Linked DNA regions of Homo sapiens: regions 1 and 2 are each linked to region 3. Evidence: fine-mapped expression QTL. A gene starts in region 3. Each other region holds a variant in brackets. All regions are shown on one strand. Distances are between the middles of the regions.

Region 1 (10,898 bases), 86 kb after region 3:
CACTACTATCTTAGTTTGGACTCTTCAATTCTTTTTTTCCATGATCCTTGAAATGCCACTGGATGAACAGTCCTTGAGAAAACATGGACATCCTGGTCCATGATCACTTCCCGCTTTCTATCCTTTTCCATATGTGGCTGAGAGAATTTAAATCATGCTGTGGCTTGCAGCTGGGGCTGTGTATAGCTGAAGAAAAGCCTCACAGCACAAGATTGTTTCTTAAATCCTCTATCCCTGCTTTATACTTTATAATGGTCTCTCATTGATGAAATAGAACCATAGAATAGCTATCAAATAGAAAAATAACAATAAAGACATCTGGCCCCAAATTTGGCTATTTACATTTTTTTCTTTACTGAATTTTTCCAGCAACTAAACTTAAAAAGATATTTTTCCATTCTCATCTAGAAGAAGGTCCTGTCATCATTCCTCAAGGATTCCTTGGGAAGAGAAGCCATCGTGGGCTATGCTTTCTGAGCTAATGTGGGGATAGATTTTATTTCAGTCACTAAGGGCTCTGGAAGCATCTAGCGTTGTCTGACTTAAACCTTACCTGGAGAAGTGTTTCTAATCTACCCAGTGGGGCTGGCTTCATGGGCTTGTGACCTGTGCAGTCACAGAGGGGCCCACATTTCGAAGGTCCTCACTCTTGGTTTATTACTTTGCTGTCACCATCTTGAAATTTCCAATTATTTTTTAGCAAGGGGCCTGCATTTTCATTTCCTACAAATTATGTAGCCAATCCTGCTCCTCAGACCATTTGCCTCAGAATCACTTGGTGTAGGAATATAAATCAGATTCTTACTGTATCAGATCCTCTAGGGCTAAGGCCCCTGAATCAGCATATTAATAAACATCCAATGCATTTTTTGCAAAGTTTGCAAAACTTGAGAACTACCTGGATAGAGAGTTAAAATATCAGGTTCTTGGGCAGCTCTGCTTGATGAAAGATTTAAAGCAGAATTCTTGACTTTTATTTCAAGTGAGGGAAAAAAGAAACATTCATAATTAAAAACGCTTTATTTGAAATATAATAGGTGGTTTTGTCTTATTGCCAAAACAAATATTTGGGAGTATGCCTAAATTGTTGATCTGAGGATTCTCACACACTCTTTGTTCATTCCAGCATTATTTATTTATGTTTATTTTTATTCATTTCCCATTAAGCCAGGGAAATGCTTCCCTTATTTGTTAACTAATTAGATCTGCTAAAAGAGAGTAATACTGTCTGAAAATAGTTTCACATTTCCTCCAATCCCCTCAATACCCTGACAAATCAGAAAAGATGGAATCCTCATAAATTACTTGTAGGTTTTTGAGAAGTGCTAGTTGATGTTTCTGCAGGCATATGTATTTAGTTTTTATTCCAAAGTAGCTCCAAGATAGGAAAGAAACAGCGTCAGCCTGCCAGACTATTTCAATGACAGATGTTAACCTGGCTCCAGAAGGCAAGGCCCCGGATTGAGGGCATCTGGGGATCTTTTTTGGGACTATGAACAGGAAGATAATTAGTATTAGTTGCTCTAAGATTGTAGCATTAAATATTTAATCTAGGCTAAATCACCATAGAGCCATTAGAAGGACACAGCTTTTCATTACAGTGCATAGAACAAGATTTTCACCAGCACTCTAGGGATGAACAAGTTCACCTGACACCAGAAAGTCTTGGATTCATCAGATGGCAGCACTGTTTGATATTTACGCTTCAAATTTTGTTCTTTCTGACCACACCTGACCAGATCTGTGAACATCAAGTATTTTTCTAACTCATATTCTCAGACACTTGCCGATCAATAGACTCTTTTAACTGATTTTTGGTGTACTTAAAAAATAATCTATATCACATTTTTTATTTCTGATAAAAATAAGATTTCATGGCAAAAGATTCAGAAAAAAACTATGTATTTGGTATGGTTAGGCTTTGTGTTCCCACCCAAATCTCATCTTGAATTATAAACCTCATAATCCCCACATGTCAAGGGAGAGACCTGGTGAGAGGTGATTGGATCACGGGGGCAGTGTCTCCCATGCTGTTCTTGTGATAGTGAGTTCTCATGAGATCTGATGGTTTCATAAATGTCTGACAGTTCCTTCTCTACACTCTTGCCTGTTAACATATGAGACATACCTCTTCCCCTTCCACCCTGATTGTAAGATTCCTGAGGCCTCCCCAGCCATGAGAACTGTAAGTCAACTAAATGTCTTCTCTTTATAAATTCCCCAGTCTTGGGCAGTTCTTTCTAGCAATGTGAGAACGGACTAATAGATTATTTTGGACAAATATTTTAAGGCCTTTTGAGATTTCATCTTACTGAATCCATTTTACTTAATACTTAAAATTGTTTATAATATATAGTTGTCATCCTTTTACTAAACGTGTGAATAAGAATGTAGTTTAGATTTAAAATTAAAATCTTTTAGGATGGAGTACATTTAAAAAAACACTCATTTTAACCTGAATTTTCAACAGTCTTTTGACAAATTCAATTTTTAGAGAGGATGGAAAAATATGCATAAGTCAGACCCAAAAGTAAATAATATAAATAGTTCCCTGATGGCCTCTTCTCATCTTTTCTGTGTTTCCTTTCTGATTCCTTTGCCTCCAAGCTTGGGGCGTGGATCAGTCCTGTGGCTAATAAGCAGCCCTTAACATAAGCCTCATCTGAACCTCTCCCAGAATGACATTTAGGCATCTATTCTGCCTGGATATAACAAACTGAACTTGATTACTAAAATAAGTCAAACAACTAGGCAAGAACCTTAAAAGATACAAACAGACAAAACTTCAAATATCTGAGAGGTCATTATTGTTTGTTTTTGATGTCATTGTTCAGTTAAGTAGTTACAATTTGTGTAATTGTTCCTAATTTCGTTTGAGCCCTTTCTCTATAAAAGATCTGTCTCATCATTACAGAATAATATACTCTGTAAACAGATTTTATGTAGTTTATAATTATTTGATTAAAAAAGGTAAACATTAGCAGGATGTTGAAGAAATATTTTCACGTGATGTTCATTGCAGCATTATGTAGAACAACCAAGGTGGAAGCCACTTAACCATCCATTGATGGATAAATGGACAAAGAAAATGTGCTATATGCATACAATGGAATATTATTCAGCTTTAAAAGGAAGGAAATTCTGTCACATGCTACAACACGGATGAATTTTAAGGACATGATGTTAATTGAAGTAAGGCAGTCACAAAAAGATAAATACTGTAATGATTCCACTTATATGAGAGATCTAAAGCAGTTGAACTCTTAGAAATAGAAAGTAAAATGGTAGCTTCCATGGGGTGGGGGAAGTGGGAAATGGAGAGTCGTTCAATAGGTATAGGATCTCGGTTTTGCAAGATGAAAAGGTTCTAGAGAGCTGTTGCACAACAATGGGAATATACTTAATACTACAAAACTGTACACAAAATAGTTAAGGTAGTAAATTTTATGTTACATGGGGGTTTTTTTTTAACTACAATTAAACAATAGCAAAAAGAAAAGCAAGAAGGTAAACACTATATAATGAGTGATTAGCTCAATTAGAGCAGGCAATAAAATTTAGCCCTAACTTTAAACTTAATTTTAATGTAAAACAGTGTGAATTGTCTGTCTTTGAGCCAGTTAGCTCTCTCTCTGTTGTATGTTCTGATTCTACATTAGTTAGGTTGGCCAGCTCTTTTCTGAATGCTTGCCTAATGTTTCATGGAATTGCTACTGAGCTGAAAATTTCAGTGGCATGCCTTTATAACAGCTCCGTGAATGGAAAGGATAGCACATTTGCTAAATACACCACCGTGTCACATAGCATTCTAAAAGTACAACTCTCTAATCTTCTTAAGTTTAAAGGTTGAGAAGAGGCAACAAAGAAATTCCCCACTGCCTTTCCATTTTTCCTTTCAAATTAATTTTTGTTTTACATTATAACAGTATATTACATTTATAAACTCTAAAGCTGGGGAATTAAAAGGGAATTTTATTTTTAATTAAACATTTTGCTTAAACTATGCATTAGTATTTAATGGATAAAGTTCATCAACAGATTGCCCATTTTACAAGTTCATTTTCTATTATTTTATCAGGCACTGCACTATAATTAGGAGATTATATGTGTACGTTTTCTATGTGCAAATCTTGTACAGTTCTTGTAAATACTAAAAAGATGTATTGGGTTAAGTGTTTACAATTTTTTGCCAGTGACTAATTTTTGACTGTTGTAAAATAAAAATGCTTTGGGAGGCCGAGGCGGGCAGATCACCTGAGGTCAGGAGTTCGAGACCAGCCTGGCCAACACGGTGAAACTTCATCTCTACTAAAAATTAAAAAATTAGCCCGGTGTGTTGGCAGGCACCTGTAATCCCAGCTTCTCAGGGAGGCTGAGGCAGGGAGAATTGCTTGAACCTGGGAGGCAGAGGTTGCAGTGAGCCGAGAGTGCGCCACTGCACTCCAGCCTGGGCAACAGAGTAAGACTCTGTCTCAAAAAAAAAAGCTTTGGATTTAATTTTGATACGGTCCAGTTACAGAAGTGCTTGGGAGGAGTAGTGCCAAATTTAAGATCATATAGTAACAACAAGGTTTACTGGCATAGCTACATTATTTTGTACCATATTCTCTGACTGATCTTTTGTCATTCTCAGTAGTGATATGTCCTTATAGGAATGAAACAGATTTTGACAAAAATATATTGAGCTAACTTATTACTTTGTGAAATGTTCAGCTTAATTTTTGTAGGCAACATTAATTTATACTTCATTGCATTATATTCTCAAAAAATTATTGGGAGACTTACACCAAAAGTTTTTGCTCAGATTTAGATAATTACTTTTGGCTTAAGAATGTAACTCCATAGGGATTCAACTATTAGCCTTGTATGAAATTCATTTTAGTTTTAATCTCACTTGTATAGCATATTTCAATTACCTCAGTTGTATATCATTTATCCCCAATCCAAGCTAAAATTACTGCCGTGTCTTAATCATTGTGTCATTTATTTTATTTTACTATTCCCTTTTGGATAATCAAAATGCAATTAAAGTAGAATTAGAACAAAATGAAAGGTTAAGAGAAAATTATAAGCAGAAGTCTATTATAATATAGCTCTTTGTAAAGGATTTAGATACACTGTGGTTACATTGTATTCTCTTCAATGTAAAAATTAAATTTATAGTTTTCCTATTAATGTAGCCTTAGGCCTGTCTCCCAATACTAATATCGTAAAGGAATTCCATTGTCTTGGAAAATAATGGAATTTATGGTAAATGTATACATAAGGTAAATATAGTGGGACAATAATTTTTTATGTTTGTTGCAGTAGTGTTGCAATTTGCTGTACAGAAAGCATTGCTGATTGTGTAGAATATGCTTATAGTGCTGGTGCCACTTACTGGCAGGGATCAAGGATTCAAATGAAATTAAGAAACAAAAGTTAGAGAGTGAAAGTAGTCATAAAAATAGTTTTAATTCTTTCATTTTGACAAATGTTTTTATTTTTGAAATTATTTTTCCAGTAAGCTATTTACTAATGAGCAAACGAGGGCTTCCATCTATTGAACAATTTTAGACCTTAATATTCTTCACTCGCCAGATCCTACCTGCTTC[C/T]TCATGCTCTCAGCAGATGGCTTTTCTTATCTCCTAAGGCACAGAGAGGATCAAGTCTATCAGGAGACAATTTTCTCGACTTCCTATTTCCTCCTCCACCTCTTTCTATTAACATAGCTCTGTCTAGGCCAGGACATAGCTTACTCTCTTCATTTTAGAGGAATTGTTTTTCCCACTGTCTGAAATTTAATCTCCATTTGTTTTGCTGATCCTCTTCCTATGATTTTGAATGTTTTGTAGCAGACTACTCCCTCTCTTATACCTTTGTTTTCCCAGGATCTCATCTTGGCCTGTAAACATGCTGCTGTCTCAGTACCAAATAAGACAAAGCAAAAACACATTCACAAACCCACATCCCTACAAAACCCTTTATTGACTCTATTCTATCCGCTGACTTCTACTCTATTCACTATCTTATTTTTCTAATTCATTTGTAACTGAAATTATCCCAAGAAGATGACAATTGTCTCCACCTCTTTCTCTCTTTTTTGCACCTGAACTCACTGCAGTCCACTTCCATCATATAATTAAAAATTATCTTTCCAAATCATCAGAGTCCTCATTGTTAAATCTGATGCTTTTCAGCTATTTTCTCACTGTATCTCTCAGTGTTCGGCATTAGTGGCCATGTTGTCTATGAAACATTCTCATCACTTGTTTTCCCATTATACCAATCTTTCATAGCTTGTGGAATATCTTTTTGGCTCCTTCTTCTTTTAGCTTTCCTAAAACATGCATACTCCCTAGTAGTCTGTGCTTAGACCTCTCTTCTTTTGTTTTGTTTTCTTTTTTTTTTTTTTTTTTTTGGAGACAAGGTCTCACTCTCAGGCTGGAGGCCGAGTGCAGTGGCGCGGGCTCGGCTCACTGCAACCTTCGCCTCCTGGATTCAAACGATTCTCCCACCTCAGCCTCCCGAGTAGCTGGAATTACAGGCCCAGGCCAGCACGCCTGGCTAATTTTTTCTGTTTTTTGGTAGAGACAGGGTTTCACCATGTTGGCCATGGCTCGTTTTCAATTCGTGACCTCATGTGATCCTCCTACCTCGGCTTCCCAAAGTGCTGGGATTACAGGCGTGTGCCACAGCGTCCGGCTAATTTTTGTATTTTTAGTAGAGATGGGGTTTCACCATATTGGTCAGGCTGATCTCAAACTCCTGACCTCCAGTGATCCACCCACCTCGACCTCCCAAAGTGCTGGGATTACAGGAGTGAGCCAACATGCCCGGCCAGACCTCTTTGCTTTCTAATCTACACACTTTCTGTGAAAGGCTTTATTTAGGTTGCTGGCTTCAACTATGACCTGCATGCAGATGAATCTCAGACCCACCTTTCCATCCCAGATTTCTCTTCTGGGCCTTTGATCCCGACTGTGCTACAGGCACCTCAAAGCCAACGTGTTCAAAACTGAAGTCTCCACTGAGTCTGGTCCTCTTCTGGGTGCTTTCTTGTTCAGTGGATGAGCAGCTAGCCAGTTAACCAAGATAAACTGGGACACAGTCTTGGTTTCAACGTACCGTCTTCACATTATGTCTAATTAGTGGCAGAGTCCTGTAAATGTTATATTTTTAATATCTCTGATCCATCCCCTTCTTTTGTCACTGGCTGAATTTAGAAACAGTTACCCTACTACTCTTTTTAAATCCAACCTTGATCCCATTAAAATCCATTCTTCAGCTTAAAAAATAGTAAGTTTTTGAAAACACAAAACCAGATCATGTCATTCATTGTCCAGTTTAACACCTTTAATAACTCTTCATTGCCTTTAGAGAAAAATTCTAACTCATTAGCATGGTAGAGCAAGTCCTTTCTAATTTGACCCCTACTGACTTTCCAAACTCATCTTGTAATACACTCTGCCATTTATTACCTGCAGCCATCACTCAAATTTTAGCAGACCACCCTCAGTTTGTGGAAAAGGCCAAGTGCTCTCCTGCCTCTATATTTTTACACACTCTATTATTGCTGTTTGGTACATCCTTCCTGTCCCTTTCACATTTGTATATCCTTCAAAACTCAGGGCAGGCATCAACTCCTCAGAGAAATGTTCCAGTTTGGTTTCATTGTCTGTCTTGTGAGCTCACTGTAAATCCTGTGCTTAGCTCATAGGGCTTTTTCATTTATATTAAAATTATTTTGCTCCCCAAACTCCTGGAGAGCAGGGACCTTTATCTCTGATTTCTCAGTGACTGAGAACACAGTAATTGTTGTTCAGTAAATGGAAAAGAATGAATGAAGATGAAAAGAAAATTAGCTGTTGTGTTACAGCCTAAGAAAGAACTTGAGATTCTGTTCTAGCTCATAGTGAGATTTGAGAGAGCCACTCAGTTTTGGTACTTAGAAGATAGAATCAATTGTGATGATGATTTCTATTTTTCCTTTGGACAGATTTTGATAATAGAATATCCTAGGTATAGAATTTTAGGACTAGAATATATGTTAGAAATTAAGGATGTGTCTACTAGCCACATATATTTTAGATTTTGTAATGTCAAAGAAATATAAAAGTATATATACATGACTAAAAGACAAGATGCAACATCCTCTGATAATTACTCTTGAAGCAATCTTGCTTATTATTTTCAGTGGTGTAATGTATATAAAAATGGACCCATTGTAATAAAGCTTTTCCTAAGATATTCTTCTAGAAAAATTAACATTTCCTTGGCTTTATTGTAATCTGTAATGTTTTTGAAACATGACTGTTGTATAAGTTCTTAATTAACAAAGTACAAAATAAGAATCATTGTAACTATATAATTTCAAAATCAAAAGGAGAAAAGTGCTTTCCTTTTTTTTTTTACCAATTCAGAAAATTATTTACCAATTCAGAAAATTTAACAACCATAAGCAAGTAAGTTTCCATTGCCATTTTTAGTCTCTACCTTGTCAAAAGTAATGATTGAACAGTAAACTAATTCAGTCAACTGAGTGTTTTATCTCCTTGACCTATAATAATGGGTTTGGCTTTTGCCTGTATTTCCTGGAATTGTAAAAAAATCAGCCAGTAATTTTGATATCCTGGAATTATTAGGAGCTAAAATGTATTATCAGGCACTACAGTTGCAAAGTTTTACACAACTATTCTTTAGACATTTTTGGACCTGTGTGGAATGGTAAAAACAATAGATATATAATTCAAAGTAAATTTGAAAACCAGTCTAATAAACTGACATGTCTAAAGATGCTTTAATCTAAAAAGTCAAAAGTAAACAAATAGCCAAAATATAAACATTAGTACTCCCACAAAACCTGCAAATCCTTCTCAAATCTACCACCTAAATATTTCTCGTTTGTGAGAATTTCTACCTGTAACCTCGTTCATTGGCTCTTGTTCTACCTACTTATGGAGGACTCTAGCCTCATAAATTCCTGGAACGTCTGAAAGTCCTCACATATATATACACACAAACAAGTCTCATCAATTACTGAGTGGCCTTACCCTTGCTCTCCTACACTCTCCCTCCCCTGTCCTATTTTCCCACCTCCTTCAGCTGCACTTCCAAGATTTGTCTTCTCTAAGCCAGTCTGGGGAGACATCCTCTATTTTGGTTTAATACACTTAGAAAGTTGCCAAAGTACCATTGCCTTGTGTCCCAATTGTTTAATGAGATTTTAGGGCAACTAGCTCTTAAATCAGTGGAGACAGGGCTAGGAACCATTCCATATTGTCTGCTTTTCTTGTTATATGCGTCACCACCCCAAATGCAAGCCTCTCCATGCACCAATAAATTCTTCTTTCTTGACTTTTTTAAAAAAATTATTTTTAACTGACATAATAATTGTATATATTTATGCGGTATTTATGTGATGTTTTGATACATGTTTATATTATGGAATAATTAAATCAAGACAATCAACAAATCCATTAAGTACTTTTTTTGTGATGAAAACATTTAAAGTCTACTCTTTTTAGCAATTTTGAAATACACATTATTATTTATGATAGGCACCATTCTGTGCAATAGATCACAAAAGCTCATTCCTCCTGTCTGACTGAAACTTCACACCCTTTGATCAACATCTCCTCCTTCCCCACCCACCCCTCTCCCCTACAACAATAAATTCTTGAACAGAGGAATCACATCTTACTTGGACGATGGATTATATAGTTATGAGAGGTGACAGCGTGTGCCCTTGCTCGCTCTCGGCGCCTCCTCGGCCTTGGCGCCCACTCTGGCCGCGCTTGAGGAGCCCTTCAGCCCACTGCTGCACTGTGGGAGCCCCTTTCTGGGCTGGCCAAGGCCGGAGCCGGCTCCCTCAGCTTGCGGGGAGGCGTGGAGGGAGAGGCACGGGTGGGAACCAGGGCTGCGCGCAGTGCTTGCGGGCCAGCGCGAGTTCCGGGTGGGTGTGGACTCGGCGGGACCCGCACTCGGAGCGGCCGGCTGGCCCTGTCCACCCTGGGCAATGAGGAGCTTAGTACCTGGGCAAGCAGCTGCGGAGGGTGTGCTGGGTCTCCCAGCAGTGCTGGCCCACCGGCGCTGCGCTCGATTTCTCGCGGGCCTTAGCTGCCTTCCCGCGGGGCAGGGCTCGGACCTGCAGCCCGCCATGCCTGAGCCTCCCCGGCCCCACCGCTTGGTGGGCTCCTGTGCAGCCGGAGCCTGCCGGACGAGCGCCGCCCCCTGCTTCACGGCGCCCAGTCCCATCGATCACCCAAGGGCTGAGGAGTGTAGGCGCACGGCGTGGGATGGTCAGGCAGTCCCACCTGCAGCCCCAGTGCGAGATCCACTGGGTGAAGCCAGCTGGGCTCCTGACTGGTGGGGACTTGGAGAATCTTTATGTCTAGCTAAGGGATTGTAAATACACCAATCGGCACCCTGTGTCTAGCTCAAGGTTTGTAAACACACCAATCAGCACCCTGTGTCTAGCTCAGGGTTTGTGAATGCACCAGTCCACACTCTGTATTTAGCTACTCTGGTGGGGACTTGGAGAACCTTTGTGTTGACACTCTGTATCTAGCTAATCTAGTGGGGAGGTGGAGAATCTTTGTGTCTAGCTCAGGGATTGTAAACTCACCAATCAGCACCCTGTGTCTAGCTCAGGGTTTGTGAATGCACCAATCGACACTCTGTATCTAGCTACTCTGGTGGGAACTTGGAGAACCTTTGTGTCCACACTCTGTATCTAGCTAATCTAGTGGGGACCTGGAGAACCTTTGTGTCTAGCTCAGGGATTGTAAACGCACCAATCAGCACCCTGTCAAAACAGACCACTTGGCTCTCTGTAAAATGAACCAATCAACAGGATGTGGGTGGGGCCAGATAAGAGAATAAAAGCAGGCTGCCCCAGCCAGCAGTGGCAACCCACT
Region 2 (10,898 bases), 290 kb after region 3:
TCTTCCCAGATGGCTCTTGAAGACATCATCCATAACTACATTTCATTTGCATCTATATTTATAATTCTAATGTGGGTAGCATAGGTGTGGATGCTATAGGCAGGGAAAGCAGCAACAGCACACACACAGAGCAGCTTTGCCTGAGCCTTTATGTCTATGTGATCATTTTCCATGATGATTTTGCTTCTCTTACTCTGTGATTTAAAAAATGAAAGTAATTTCACTATTCTCTCCTTGTCCTCTCTTTGTTTGGTCTTATTCCCTTGTTACGGCCTGCTTACAGATCTTCTTTCTCTGTTTCTCTCTCTATGCTACCTCAAGGTCAGCATAATTTGAATTTTTTCCCCTGAATTTACTAAGTTAACTTCTATACTTGAACCTTGATGCTTTGTCTTTCTTGCTCTAATATATATTTTTCTTCTCTGATCAATATTTCCACACAACAGTCTTACATGTGTTACAGCAGCAGCTATAATAATAATAATAACAATAATACTTTCTATTTGTGAACTTTGCAGGCACAGAGTACAGTACTTGTGTATACAATATTTAACAAATAAATGGATAATGATGTTTAACAAATGGATAATGATAATAGCCAACACATATTGGGCATTTATTGTATGCCAGACACTCATTACGTGTATTTATTTAATGTTTATAACTTTTTGAATTTACAGTAATTATTATCATAGATTGCAGACAAGGAAACAAACACAAGGAATTTAGCAATTTATAAAGGGTCAGAGTTCTCACAGCAGTAATTGTAGAGCTGGGATTTGAACATAAGTCAGTTTGATTAAATATATTTTGGGTCTGCCACCATCAACACTAGTTCTAAGTGTATTATGATGGTGGCCATCTTGATTGTTCTCTTTTATAAGGCTTTGCTAAAATAGTCAACAGTGAGTTCTGGTAATCAAGTATATTTTAATTTCCCTGTGGATTTCTCATTGTAGTATACCAATAGTCTAAAAATTAGAGATCGCTATTAGGAAACCTACTTATGTTAATAGGCAAACAAATTATCAGTTCAGTGTTTACTTGAGTCTTCAAGTAAGAATGTATTCAGAGATTGATGATGCTATTGAATGTGCTGTCATAAAATCATTGACTTTTACACCTGAAAAGAATATTAGATAATGATGATGATAATAATAATAATAATAGTAATAGTAATAGTAATGATAATAATACCTGCCAGGCATACCAAGTTTTCTATATTCTGGGTCTTTTGTGATGATCATTATATACATTGTTTCATTAAATTCTTAGAATGACACTATGAAGTAGGCTATCATTTTGCACTATGATGATTTTACCAGTGAGAAAATAGACTTGTTATAGTTAGATAACTTCCTAAGTGATAATTGGCCAAGCTGAGATTCAAATACTGCAGAGCTTGTGCTCTTAAACATTGTTATTTGTTACAGTTTATTATACCCACAAATTTTCACAAATGCTAAAGTTGATGTTTAGAGAAGTTACTTGGCTTTTGCAGACCCTAAAGCTAGTCAGCATCTGCATCAGTCTGTTTTCACACTGCGATAAAGAACTGCCTGAGACTGGATAATTTAGAAAGAAAAGAGGTTTAATCAATGCACAGTTCTTCAGGCTTAACAGGGAGCATGACTGGGAGGACTCAGGAAACTTACAATCATGGCAAAAGGTGATGGGGAAGCAAGCACCTTCTTCACACGGTGGTGGGAGGGAGAGAGAGAGCAAGGGGGAAAGTGCCATACACTTTTAAACCATCAGATCTTGTGAGAACTCACTATCATGAGAACAGCATGGGGGAAATCAGTCCCCCATGATCCAATCACCTCCCACCAGGTCCCTTCCCCAACATTGGGAATTATAATTCAACATGAGATTTGGGTGAGGACATGTAGCCAAACCATATCAGTGTCTACCACTGGCTTTTAGTTGAAGATTTTTCCCATTACTGGTCACATTTTCTTTCACGCCACTTTGCTTTTTCAACAAAGCTTCAACTATTACCATCTTCTTCAATCATTCTTTCAACTAATCCAAAACTGAAGGTTAGGTTTATGCAGAGAATAAAGTATAATAGAGAATACATAGATGAATATGTCCTCTAAGATATTATAAACTAATTATGATAGAGAAAAAAACTATATAAGCAGCTAATTATGCTTCAAAGCAGAAAGAATTATACAGTATATTAAAAATCCAAGCAGTCTTAAGTTGGACTTGGAAAAAGTATTCGGATGATGTGGAATTTGAAATGAGCCTTGAAGGAAGGGTAGGGAGTTTGAAGGTAGGGTATTCCATCCAGATAGTTATGGATGAGAGCCAGCTAGGTGCTGTGAGAGGCACAGAGGCAGTCCAAGAAATAATCTGTCATCATGAGGACATAAATGCTACCTGATGAGGCAAGACTTACATATGTGGCATGAAAGTGCCCAGCATAGTGTTAAAGAGCTGTAGAAGGTCAGAGACAGATAAATATTTGAGAGCCAGAGTAGCCAGGGAAGGTCTACACAGGGAGCAGAGCCTGAGTTGAACTTTGAAACCTTGAAAGATAGGCAGTAGTTTTACATGAGAAGAGGGGCAGTGCAGGCAAGGGGAGGGTCCCAGGTACAGTCAGGTAAGAGTGCATGAGGGTGTTGATGGCATAGTGAGCAGACACACAGTAGTGTGTGTTTGTGTGTGTATGTTTAGGTGGGTACACACAGGTGATGGCTAAAGAATAACTGTGACAGACCAGAAGCTGGGTAAGTGATGCCAGCAGGCAGTATGACAACATGTTAACAAGTAGAGATGGGTGACCTAGTGCAGTGTTCTGTAGACTACAAAGTAATGACAGGTCCTGGAGAAGGTTATATAGCCCTGAGTGATCGCAGCTTATGCATCCATCATGTGAGTGCTGCTGGCTGAGTGTAATCTTGTTAACATCTTCATCTTTAAATAAGATTAGGAAAAATAGTCCATGGCAATACAAGTTGTTTATTTTTAAAGGCTATCTTCATTTTTTTAATAGAGAAAAAATAATATTGTTATGTGCAAAATCTAAACATACTGGAGAAGTCGGTATCAGCTTACATTACTTTTTCATCATTATTCATTCACACGGTCTCTAATACACTTGAATGAAAATTTAAATTAGATCACTAGTGATAATGATATTTGAATTCTGGCATACAAAAGTAGTGGAGTAGGAGAGACAGCAGAGAGACAAAACTGACTTAGGTTAAGAATCTGTTATGAGGAGTGTTAGGAGCTGACAACCTCCATCTGCCACACTGTTGGGATCTGCTTCAGCTTTCACTTTGAGACCATACTCCCATGAGCTGCTCCCAGCTGATGCTTGAGCATAGGGCCTGGAAATTTCTGCCCAATATGGGGCTTCTATATGTGTGATCTTTGCACTGGTGTTTCCCATTGGGTTGGCTCAAACTTTCTCAAAGCCCTACTGTATCTGAGATGCTTCCTAATGAGTCCCCCTTCCTCCCCTCTCTCCTTTTGCAGGTATCAGCTTTGCATCTTGGCCTGAAGGCTTTCCCTGATTACTTCTACTTCCTATCCCCCCAATCAATCTCTTGCCCTTGAATTCTTTCTTGATATCTGTTTGCTAGAGGACCCAAACTTACCCAGCATCTTTGTGATTATATAAATCAAATAAATAGAGCTATAGTTGAGAATAGAGGTCAGCAAACTTTTTCATAAAGGGGTAGCTAGTAAATATTTTAGGCCTGGTGGGCCACACATGGTCTCAGTCATATGTTATTCTTTATTTTTTCTTACAACCTCTAAAACTGTAAAAGCCATTTTTAACTTGTGGGCTGTAAAAAACTGGCAATAGTTTGCCTACTCCTGATATAGGGTATAAGGCATTTAATTTTAAAAGTATTTGCTTATTTTCTCCATGTTTCAATTTTACTAACTATAAAATAAAGCTAGATCTGCCCACTAAGCTCGCAGGGACTTTCTTTTAGCTTTATCAGTGGCAGTGAATAATTTCAATCTGGCCTTGGAGTCTGAAGAAGGAGACTGAGATGTGGTAGAAATTCAGGAAGTGGAGGGGGTGCCAATGAAAATATGTGGATCTAAGGCAGGTAATCTCTGATGAAGAGAGAAAAATCATAGAAACAGAAAAAGTGAAATTATCAGAAGCCCTTCCTTCCAAAACTTCCATAAGCCAGCCATGCATGAGAACTTTGAATAAGAGGAAAGGCAGGGCGGAAGTAGAGAATAAGAATGGATGGAGAAAGAAAGGCAAGGAGACAATGAGAAGGGCAAGAAAAGGGAGAGAAGTAGAGGCTGTTATGTTATTTTATTTTATTTTTACATAACAAAATGGTTGAGAAAATATAGAAATAAAAATATCCAACCTCTGGGAGTGGAGTAGACAACCTAAAATTTGATTGAAAGGAGTAATTGTCCAGAAGTCATATTTTTCACTGCATAAAAGTAGCTCTCTGGGAAGAGAGCAGTATGTAATGGAACCCTGATTAAAGTCAATTATAATAAACTCAAGGAACATATTCTTAATAATTCAGATTTGATGTCAATGTTAGCTTTCAGAAAATTGATGCTATTTTAATGACAGCCATTAGAAGAAAAAGGGATTTAGAGCACTTAATAGAACACTGTACAGAACAGTTCTGTTCATTCCCTCCAGGAAAATGTATCAGGATGTAGGAATCTTTGTTCTCTATTAAATGTCATAGGGGAAGGAACATAGGGTGTGGTTTTAGACTAGAGGATATAAGTATGAAACCAAACCAAAGCGAGGGTCTAAATGGTATTAACTCTGAAGCAGATGCCTGTTGTGCTTAATTACACCATTTCCTTTTTCTGGGCACTTAAGTTGGGGCAATACCTCTGAGTTTTAGCTAGTGAGATGAAGGCAGAAATGTCCCTTAAAACATTCCTCTTGACCTCTCTCTCCACTACTCTCTACTTCTGCAGTGATCTTGAAGGTCAAGCATTGCAGTTGGAATAGCTACAAGTTGAAGGAGGGCAGCCCTATCAATGCCATGCTATGTCCAAATGAGAAATAAATTGAAATTAGACTAAACCAATAATATTTTGTGGTTTATTTGCTACTTTAACAGAGGCTAGCCTATAGTGACCAGCAGAGATTCTGCAGGCATGAAGCCATGGTCAATGACTTGCTACACGCGGAGCTCAGGAAAATATTTGAATGTTACATTTGGTAAGCCAGCGTGGTTAAAGGGGCACATACAGGGCCGCAAGAATGCCTTC[T/C]GTTGAAAAGCAGATTAAGAGGGAAGCAGATGTTGCTGGAGTCATTTCAAGGTTTCAAAATTTGTTTAAAGCAGAGCCCAAAGAATGATAACTGCCCAGATGAATTCAAGCAAGCCTTTCAAGGCTATCGGAAAAGAAAGAAAATCAGACCCGATATACCATCGATAGCAACACTGAGGCAGCATCTGAGACCAATTGCTGGTGCTGTTGGGTTCTGGTTGAGATTCTGTTTCCTATTGTTTAAAAATTAGTGAATAGGGAAGGTTTTCCTGAAGAGAAATTATTGTAGAAAATAGAGAGTGGGTAATACAGAAAAGGTAGATAGCTGTGCATTGGAGGCCTGATACAGTCAGTTACCTGCTCTGATCTTTCCTGGCCCCTGCTAAAAATTGTAATGGGTCCTCTGTCTTCTCCCTAAAGCCCCATACATGTTTACCATACTGGATTGTTTCCTGTTGCCCAAATGAATCTTCCATTCTCCTAGTTTAATGGCTTCACTTATCTTGGTTTCCCTGATGGACATGCTCTTCTTTCTCACTTTTTCCTGATGAAATCCCAGCTCTTTTTCAAGGCCTAGATCAAATGCCATCTTCTACACAAAGGATTTCCTGTTGATTCTAGTCTATCATTTTCTTCCTCAATTCTCTCATAGAACCACATAACTTTCTGATACCACTTTCCTTCTACTTGTACTGTAGTTATTTGTATTTATGTCTTTTCTCTCCAACTATTTTGTAAACTTCTTGAGATCATGTTGAATTTATTTTTTTGTATGCCACGTAGTACAAATCAGAATTTCTGGTCTTAGTGTGTGATACATAAATGTTTAATTCAATTGAAGATAATTGAAGAATAAAAAGACTAATTTCTTTTGGCATTACTAGGCATGAAGACATATTAAATATGATAAATTAGCAGAATAGTGTTATAAAAAATGAAGTGAGATGAAGGGAAAAATTGGTAGCCAAACAGTTCTTAGTAAATATAAGGTGACACAAATAATGAAATATTATAAATTAATGATGGTGGGATAGTTACTTTGATATTTGTTTAAAAAATAGGAAAAAGAAACAAAATTGGTTTAGATCTTATCTTATACTCTACCAAAACAAATTCCAGAGAGAAATACAGAAATAACAATAAAATAATCAAGCCAGAAAATATAGAAAAGATTAACATCTATTCTGTGTCTAGATTTGGAAGGACTTATAGCCTTAAAAGCACTGGAAGAAATCATAAAGAAAAAAATTATAACAGACTTTAAAAACAAGTTCAAACAACTTTGGTACTTAAAAACAAACAATACAAACCATAATTTAAAGACAAGCTTCAACTCGGGGGTGGGGGAAAATATTTGCAAGGAATATCATTAAAAACAGAATTTATAACCCTAAAGTATAAAGAGCTTACATAAATTAGATGAACAATAGGACTACAACAGTACTTAAACTGATAATTGATAAAGAGAAAATAAAATGTTCAACCCATTAAAGAAATGCAAATTAAAAGAACAATGAGCACCAATTTTTGACCTATAGAAAATATTAAAGATTTAATGTACTGAATTTTAATGTGGGTCAGTGAGTCATTCATTTATATAATACTAATGGAAGTGAGAATGTTCTAGAAAGCAATTTAATAATATGTATCAATAGACTAAAATATTCATAACTACTTACTGATTAATTCCACTTTTAAGAATCAATACCTAAAGAAATTTTGCACATAATGATGTTTATAAAAGTGTTATTAAGAATGGTGAATATGAGCAACAATCTACAGTATATATTCAGCATGAGGAAAATTAGTAAATTATAACATATTTAGAGAGAAAATTGTATGTAGTCTCTGAAAATAATTTTTATAAAGAGTTTTGAACGATGTGAATAATTTCTTATGATATGATATTGAACAAGAACATAAGATATAGTATACCTGTGTAAAATTTCATACAAAGAAAAGTTTTTCAAAACATTTGTGCTGGTGTTGGCATAATACATGTATTTTTCTCTTTCATAATTTTCAGATTTTCTCAATAATCATGCAAAGATTTTTAGACAGAAAACTGTAAGCAAAATATACAAATTTTTAAGACTAATGACTTCAATACAAAACTGGGAAAGTAAGATGATAAAGGACCTACATGTACAAAATAGAATTTGAATTTCAGAGTATTTTCAAAGGCCTTTAAGAAGGTATGGCATTTAGAAGAACATTCAGTTTGCATAGATTGAAGTAATTTTAATAGAGGGATCACTTATGAAAGTAGAAGAGATAGTTCATAATCCAAGGGCTACCAAAATGAGAAGCTGTTTCCACCCCTAGAGCTGAGGTGGCAATGAGATAGAGTGGTGACAAGAATCAGAAGAGGGTAGCTGTATGGAGAAGTTTGCCTAGCAGGGTCAACCAGTATGCAGAGATCAGAAGGGGGAGCAAGGGGCATAATGACCTCAATTTCACTTGCCTCCTACTTGCCAAGCTCCTGCAGATGCTCTCCATTGGGTGACCCCAACTGGAAGTTAGGGACCAAGGGGGCCTGTTGGTGCAGATCAGCTTCCCAAGGCACGTAGCAGAGTGGAGGGAAGAGAGGAGATCAGAATGATAAATGAAAATACGGCACAGATGCTGTGGGAAAAAAAGAAAAGCTTGTCATGAAGGATCTCATAATGCATTCTTTACAAACAAATTGTTGGTTAAAGTCAATATGAGTTGGGGAATTGATTAATTGAAGATCTTCCAATGGAAGAAGAAGCCTGATCAATAAGGTTTGTTGCATATGCTACACATAGCAAAAGATTTTTGGATACAGCTAATATTGTGGGGGAAATAAAACAGGCTATAGTAACAAACAATTTATAAACTCTCATTAAAATGAAAGCAGAATGGCAAAGACTCACCAATTTAGGGGTAAAAATTTCCTGGAATAGCAAAAATGCTGTAGCTTACAGATAAATATGTGTTTGAATCAGGGAAAGAACTAAGAAGGTTAGGACAAATTGTAGTAAAGAGGATACAGAAACTGGTGAGGTGAAAATGATGGTAATTTGAAAAACTGGAATGTAGCAGAAGTGTATGTAAATTGCATACATTTTGGTATCTTTATGTAAAAAAGAACAAAAGTGGAAGTTTGGGAGGTGAAGTTTGAAGTTAAAAATCTATTATGGTTTTGTTATTTGTGATTATTTAAATCTAAATTTAATAACAAGTTTTGCAATCTCCCTGTCTGCTTTATCGAGTGTTAATGTTCAATGATACTGCATTCATTTGAAACACATTTTTCGTGAATTACTTAGTAATGTGGTCATGTTACAAAAAGCAGAATACAGTAGCTTGCCAAAGTTTTTGGATAATTGTTTTAGTGGTCATAGTACAGTATCACTCTTGGCAAATAAAATGTGGCTGTTTTGGAAAGACAGCATTTCCTTCAAAGGTTAAAAATATATTGACAACCTCTGAGATTCAACAGGAACTCATCTTTAAGATAAGGCCCACATAAAAAGTTTAGATATTGCCTGATGGCAGAGAGATAAATGGTTGTCAGAAAATGAAAATGGCTCATTTTATAAGTGTGAGTGGCAATTTTCCTATAACTCTGTCATATGGATAAAGTACATGCCTTTCTGACGCAGCCTGGCTGAAGGGAAGGAAGGAATAGCCAGGATTAATGAGATAAATGAAAATAATATTTATTTTCTGAGGCACTCTATTAACATCTTCGAGTGGGTCTGCCAGAATCTTTCTCCCAATATCATTATGTGAATGACATAGTTAAGACATTTATTAAGTTAACAGAAGTAGAGAATAGAGGTACCCTGCAGAAACATCTTTGGCAAAAATGAAGGGATCTGTTGCGACTCTGCATATATCTGTTGCTCTTCTTTTGCCTAATTTTATCTCTGTGTGTTTGAAATGTGTTCACTGTACTTCCCTTCTATTTAGAGCTTGATAAAGGGAAGTTGAAAGGTATAATATGACATTTTTAACTCTTAAGAATAAAGATAACCTATGGCTTAGCTAAAATATTAATTTCACAGCAAAACTATTGCTTGTATCAGAGAGAGAAAGAGGAGAGGAGAGGAGGGGAGGGCAAAGGAGGGGAGGGCAAAGAAGGGGAGGAGAAGAGAGGAGAGATTTGCTAATATAAGTTGTGACCTAAAACTTAAAAAGCATTTTTAATTGGTCAGACATGGAGTATGTTTGCCTGTTTAATCTTTTTACTTGCTTGTGTATTGAAGAGTACTTTCAAATTTAGCTGAGTGTCCTCTACACATTCAGGAAAGTAATACTTACGGGAGATAGTCCTGTCAGATACATGTGTGATATATTTGTTAATATATAGTATAACACAAACTTGCATTATACTATAATTTCCCACTCACTTACCCTAAATGCTAACCCACTAATGTTAGTATGAGACCAGCCATGAGGCAGTCTTGAATTTATATGCTACTTCCCTGTCTCGGTCATTTTATCTTGAAAGTACCCTACAACATCTACAGATATCTCATACAAAATACACCAATCAAAAGACCAACAGCATATGTGTGTACATTTTGCCTTGCCCAGTGTATCCTTTTGGATGTTTTTGGTTCAGTCTTCAGATCTGCATAAGTATTGGAGGTTCTCAGGGGCCCAATAATCCCACTCTCCAGAGGCAAACTCTGTGATTAGTATTTATCTTTCCAGTCTTACTAGATGCACATTTAAATGTGTATATGTTCTATATTATGCATACCGAACTGTAATCTGCTTTTACTCATGTAATATGTGGTAAGTCAGTACCTAAAAATTATCTGATCCTTTCAAGTGGCTGCATGGTATTCTGTTGTATGGACCCACTCCAATTTATTTTTAAAATGATTGGTGAATTCTAGGTTGTTTCAGATATTAGTAATGAAATAACGACTTTATGAACCTCACAATGACACATACATTTGCATTTTTATTTATTCCATAGGATAAATCCAAAATGTGGAATTACTGAGACTACATACATTTAGATTGTTGGTGTGCTTTGCAACATTGCCATTAGAAAGGTTGATTAAAATTTTACTTTTTAGGCCAGGCGCGGTGGCTCATGCCTGTAATCCCAGCACTTTGGGAAGCCAAGGCAGAAAGATCACCTGAGGTCAGGAGTTCGAGAGCAGCCTGGCCAACATGGTGAAACTCGGTCTCTACTAAAAATACAAAAAAATTAGCTGGGTGTGGTGGCCAGCGTCTGTAATCCCAGCTACTCGGGAGGCTGAGGCAGGAGAATTGCTTGAACCCAAGAGGCGGAGGGTGCAGTGAGCCGAGATTGTACCACTGTACTCTAGCCTGGGCAACAGAGTGAGACTCCATCTCAAAAAAAAAATTTTACTTTTTAAAAGTTAAAATCCAAGCAGTTAACAAAAAAAGAAAAAGGGGGGGTGGATTTTCTTTTTTCTGTTTTCCTAGAGTACACTCATTTTCCTCATTATTTGGGGCAGATGTTAAATGGTATCATTTTTCTCTCTCTCGTGCCACTTTATGAACCCTCGTGTTTGCCAGTGTTCTTCCTTTAATGTTGTGACCAGAGTTACTGATCCTTATTATAATCCGTGTGGACTCTTCCCTTTCGGAAAGAATGCACATCCCTTTGTGGGATTAACCGAGAAGGAGAGGTTCTCTGTCATCTGATGAGATTG
Region 3 (5,000 bases):
ATCACTAACGGGTTCTAGAGCTCTGGGCCCTTCGATCTTCATCTTGAAAATGACAGCCTGAAAGGACTTTTTACGGCCCCCTTCAGCTTTAAGCTGGTCCTGACCTAATCACATGTTTCAAGTTCTAACTGAAAATTACGAGAAGGAAATTAGGAAAGATGTATCAAAGTCCATGTTTATCCTGGATTAACTTTGTCACCATTGTGCTGCTGTGGAGGCAAACCTGTTGCATCACATGGAATACCCTATTTCTGGCTGTGCATTAGAAATACAAGAGGCAGCCGACTGGCTTTTTATATTTTCATTTTTTAAAAAAGTAAACAATAGTATCCCTCGATGATGGGAAGTTCTCAGGTTTCACCTTTATAGTCTGAAAGTACACACAGAATGCCACCTGGCAGACAAGGGCCACACAGCTGAACCCGGGGTATGCTGGCTAGCTTTACCACGCGTGAAGACTCACTTTAAAGCCACGTCCCCAATCCTTACCAGGGGGCTGATCAGTGCCGTCGCTGTTACTGGTGGGGCGATTAACCGTGTAGCGGCCAGAGAATGAGGTTTGCGTATTACCTGCCCATGTATTTATACCCACCTCGTGTGGCTTGTGGTCACCAGAGCAAGAGCATGCAAATTAAAAGCAACGAGATTTGACCTTAGATCTTACTGGACACATCTACTACTATATTGGAAACAGGAAAAGAAAGAGCTTTTGACACAGCACCTGGTGGAAGGGGCAAACCTCCATCTCCCCATACATTGCATTGTTGCAGTCTTCAGAGTTTCAAAGGCTTGCCGTTTCTCCCTGAAAAACACGGCCGGTCGGGAGGGATTTCTGGCGCGGCCCACTCACCTCTTTGATCTTTGCCCTTTTCTCGCGGATGGCGGCGTCGGCGGGCTCCCGGCTCTCCACCCCGATTGGGGGCACGAAGTCCACCGGGGGCAGGCCTCTGAACGGCGCCTTGTCACGCAGCTGGTCCTGGGCCACCTTCTTCTTCTCCAGTAGGATGTCTCTTTGGATCTCCTCGGGCAGCTTCTGCAGGGTCTCCTTGGCTTCCCTGAGAGCCCGCTCGTGGTTTTCGCGGATCCTGGCCAAGTTGTCCTCCAGGGCGGCCTCCGGGTCCCCGGGTGCCCCCTCCTCGCGGCGCCGGGCTCGCCCCTCGGCCGCGTCCTCGGCGCGCGCCCCGGGCCCGGGCTTGTGGTCGGCGGCCGGCTGCAAGGCGGGGCTGGAGTGGAACAGGACCCCGCTGAGCAGCTTGGAGGAGTCTGGCAGGAAGAAGATCGCCCCGAAGCAGAGCGTGATGAAGGCGCTGAATACCAGCAGCAGCACGAACTTCTCCGTCAGGCGGAGGGCGGCGGGGCCCGACCCCTTCCTGCCACCGCCGCCGCCGAGCCCCCCGCCCAGGACGCCGCCCGCGGGGCTGCTGAAGAGCGGCAACAGGCCCCCCACGGGCATCGCTCCCGCTGTCCAGTGGTCCGGCGCCGCGCCGCTCAGCAGCCAAACTTCGCCGCCGCTGGGAGTCCGCGGCTGCGGGGCTGGGTCCTGCGTAGCCAGGCCGCCCGACCCCCTCGGCTGGGCTGCGGATCCTCCCTGGGGGAACAACTCCGCGCCGGGTCTTCTCCCCGGGGCGGCTCCTCGGGCACACAGGCACGCGCGACAGACCGCTGGCTGCAGCCCCTGCGGGGAGAGAAACAGTAAAACGTAGTAATTACGGCGATGATAAAGTTTCCAGCGGGTCTCCGCCCTCCGACTCCTGGCGAGCCTCCAGGACCGCTCCCCTTAAGCAGAGTCCTGTCCAGTCCGGGCACCGCCCTCGCAGCCCACTCTCTGGACTTGGGGTGAAGTTATCAGGTCCCGTGGGTAGGGGAGGGGTGTCCCGCGCAGGAAGGGGTCAGGGCAGCGCGCGAGCACCTCGGGGAGGGGCAGCGCACCTCTGGGCAGGAGGGGCGCAGCGTGGGCGGGAGACTCGTCAACTTCGCCCGCTCCCCATCTCCGCGCTGAGACTGCTGCCTCTTTCCTAGGCTGGGCTGAGCGCGCTGTCCCACGGTCCCGCAGCCCCGGCGCGGCTCAGGTGGGCGAGCGCGCCGACCTGCGGGCGAATGGCAGCGAGTAGAGCAGCACGGTACACTCCGCCGCGGCCCCGCGAGCACTAATCTCACTGCCGGTCTTGGGGCGGTGGAAAGCGAGGGAGGCGACGCGGCCGGAGAGTGACGGCGCGGCCGGGCCAATCACGCGCCGCCCAGGGTCCCGCGGGGGCGGGGCCGAGGCGAGGAGGGGGATGCGCGGGGCGGGGAGTTTACGGGAAGCGCAGCCTCGGCGGGGCCCGGCCGGCGGCGGGGAGGTCGCGGGGCCGGGAGGCGCGAGGTAGGCGGGAGCCGCGGTGAGGAGGACGGTCGAACCCGTGGCTGAGGCCCAGCGCCGAGAAGCGGCAGGCAGAGTTCGGGGTCGGGGAGTTTATCCTGCGCTGGCCTCGGCAGGGGTCCCCGGGGTGGTTGATCCTCGACTGGCCCGGGAGGCGCCTGGGTCCGCGCGGGACCTCTCTGCCTCCTCCTCCGACCCGTGCGGGGCGGTCGGGGGCGCTCCCGAGGGGGTCCCGGGAAAGGCGGGGTCTGGCAGGGGGTCCTGGGCGCTGGGTCGTTCAGAAGCACGGCTTTACTCCAGTTACCCTCTTTTTATCCAAGGCCGGGGTTCCCCGGGTGCCTGGTAGCAGTGAAACCCCAAGTCCCTCGGTTAGGGGAGCCGTGACCCTGGGAGCTTTTGAGCTCTCTGGTATAACATCCTTTTACATCCTAAGAGACACAGTTCTGTGCTTGCTTAGGACTTTTTTCGTATGCGCCCTTTCTTCCCCCAAAAAACAAAAAACCGAAAAAACTTGTATGTCTCTCCCGCCCACCCGTACTTTCACTATTCATTTACCTCATAGAAGTTGGTCAAATTTTCCATTCGAAGACGAGTTTTATGCTGCGGTAGCTTCAAGCAATAAGTCGAACACTGTGTTGAAATTAAGTCTTGGATCCGACTACTTCCAGCGAAGTGAGGAGTTGGTCCAATAGAAATTATTTTCCAAAATGTGTTGTAATTCTCCTGTTGCTCCACAAATAAGGGGTTATCAGAGAGGAAAACGTTGACTGACTTCGCATTTCTGAAAGCTGGTTTGTAGTCGCCTTATTTCATCCTTACCCTTCTCTGGAAATGTGACATTAGTTCTGTTTGTGCTTAAGACAAAGGAAACAGCTGGCACCTTTCGGGAAGGTGGCTCCAGTACAGTTGTTTCCAGGTGTTAAGCTGTATGAGAAAGTAGAAAAGTAATCAGAAATCCTTACTAGTTTTCATTTAATCATTTAATTATTAATTTTAACCATCATTATTTGTCGTCTACTTGTTTTGTGTAAAATGAGTAATACACTCAAAGTTCTTGTTAATAGGAAATTATTGTTTGATAAAGCTGGCTTTATGGCTTGGTTATTTTGATACCTGCTATGAAATTCTATGTCCAGAAGAGTGCAGCATATCCAAGCAGGGTAATAAGTTCAGAAGGACTGAAAAAGAAAACAAAGATGATTTTTCTTTAATGATGGAAAGGCAATTTTTATTTCAAACGATTATGCATTTGTAGGTTGTGCATAGGCTGAAAGGTTTGAATCACTGTGAAATAATGTTTCTAACAACATCCTTAAAACTGAGTTACCTCTTGAATGGATAGATAAATAGGAACTGGGTTAACTACCCCAAACGCTAATCTCTTTATGATCATCCTTTTTTGGAATGATTTATTATTTTAAAAATTATGTTGTAAGAATGGAATTATAGCCCCGGAAATATTTAGAAGCTTTATTTCAAATTAATGTTATTAAGTATTCCAGCAAAACAATAAATTCCACTTTTAAGTATATGTTAAAATGGTGATAAATAAAAGTTATAACTTAATTCTATTTCTGACACTTTAATTTTGATACCAAATCAGTTTGGGCATTTAACTTCTGTAGTGGAAATATTAAAAATTTAGTACGTGGGTTTAAGGATTTTTTCCCCTAAAAACTTTAAATTTATCTATGTTGTTTCTACATCTTTTAAAGTAACTATTCTTTTTAAGTTCATCATGAAGCTTATTTTAAGATTTTTTTCTTATTTTCCGTATTTCTTAAATGACAGGGTTATACTTGCAGCCTGGCTTTGATAATATGTTAAACAAGAAGTTAACATGGGTGGTTGATTATAGGTACATATTAAAGGGTGTCTGTGTACATTAGGTGGGATAAGAACTATATAGGAACACCAATATTTGGGCCAGAGCAAATTTGAAAAATTCACAAAGAAGGTATCTGAAGAGGCATAGCAATCGAATTATGCATCCTCTTTAAAATAATCACATGAAGCCCTGTGTGCTCATGGTAAGGGAGGAGTAGAAAATAGTCAACAAGTAAAATTGTGCATTTTGTAGAAGCAAAATCGGACACTTTCCTCTGATTTCAGTACTACAAAGCACTTGACATTCTACCATTGAAAAAAGTACTTTGTACCCTGAGATAAAAATAAAGGTGATTGGTTCTTGTCTTTTAAGTAATGAAACCTTGACTTTGTCCCCTAAGTCAAGACTCCCTAGCCACATCTACCTGAAGGTAATGTCACCATCTTTATGAATGCAATGATAGTGCTGAAATTGCTGTTTCTCATTATGGATGGTCTAATGTAAACCTAAGAACCTTAGTAATTTTGTGGGATTTTTAAAAAAATACTTGCTATGTTTTTTTATTTGGCCAGCCAGTCCTTTTGAAGTATAACTCTCTTGTAATTTTTGCAGGTTTGCTTGCAAACTTAATTCTTACATTTTCCTTTTTCAATACTTAATGTTTTTGTGTATTTCTTTGATAATTTGTAAATTTTTGTGTTTCAAGATTATATCTTTGAATCAAGTAATTTTTTAAAAACCTGATCATCAGTGATACCACAAAACACTACAAAGAAATCCCCAAATAAATGTTGTTGCTTAGATTTTTCTACT

The links. PIP is the estimated chance that this variant, and not a neighbour inherited with it, causes the effect.
Region 1: its variant is fine-mapped to the expression of MAN1A1 in whole blood (TOPMed, PIP 0.95).
Region 2: its variant is fine-mapped to the expression of MAN1A1 in whole blood (TOPMed, PIP above 0.99).

Annotation. Positions count from the first base shown.
Region 1 is chr6:119,431,128-119,442,025 of GRCh38, forward strand. No RefSeq gene overlaps it. Among named protein-coding and RNA genes, the nearest start is that of MAN1A1, 87 kb to the left of the region's middle. The variant C/T (reference allele first, on the strand shown) is at 5,595.
Region 2 is chr6:119,638,863-119,649,760 of GRCh38, forward strand. The region is part of intron 2 of LOC105377975 (a long non-coding RNA gene); the gene reads left to right. Among named protein-coding and RNA genes, the nearest start is that of MAN1A1, 290 kb to the left of the region's middle. The variant T/C (reference allele first, on the strand shown) is at 5,233.
Region 3 is chr6:119,347,613-119,352,612 of GRCh38, forward strand. It overlaps MAN1A1 (mannosidase alpha class 1A member 1), which reads right to left and starts at 2,149. Exons shown (of 13, transcript NM_005907.4): 1 at 1,930-2,149; 2 at 851-1,675. The coding sequence starts at 1,453. RefSeq lists an enhancer at 620-969 and silencers at 1,180-1,299, 1,360-1,559, 2,070-2,709.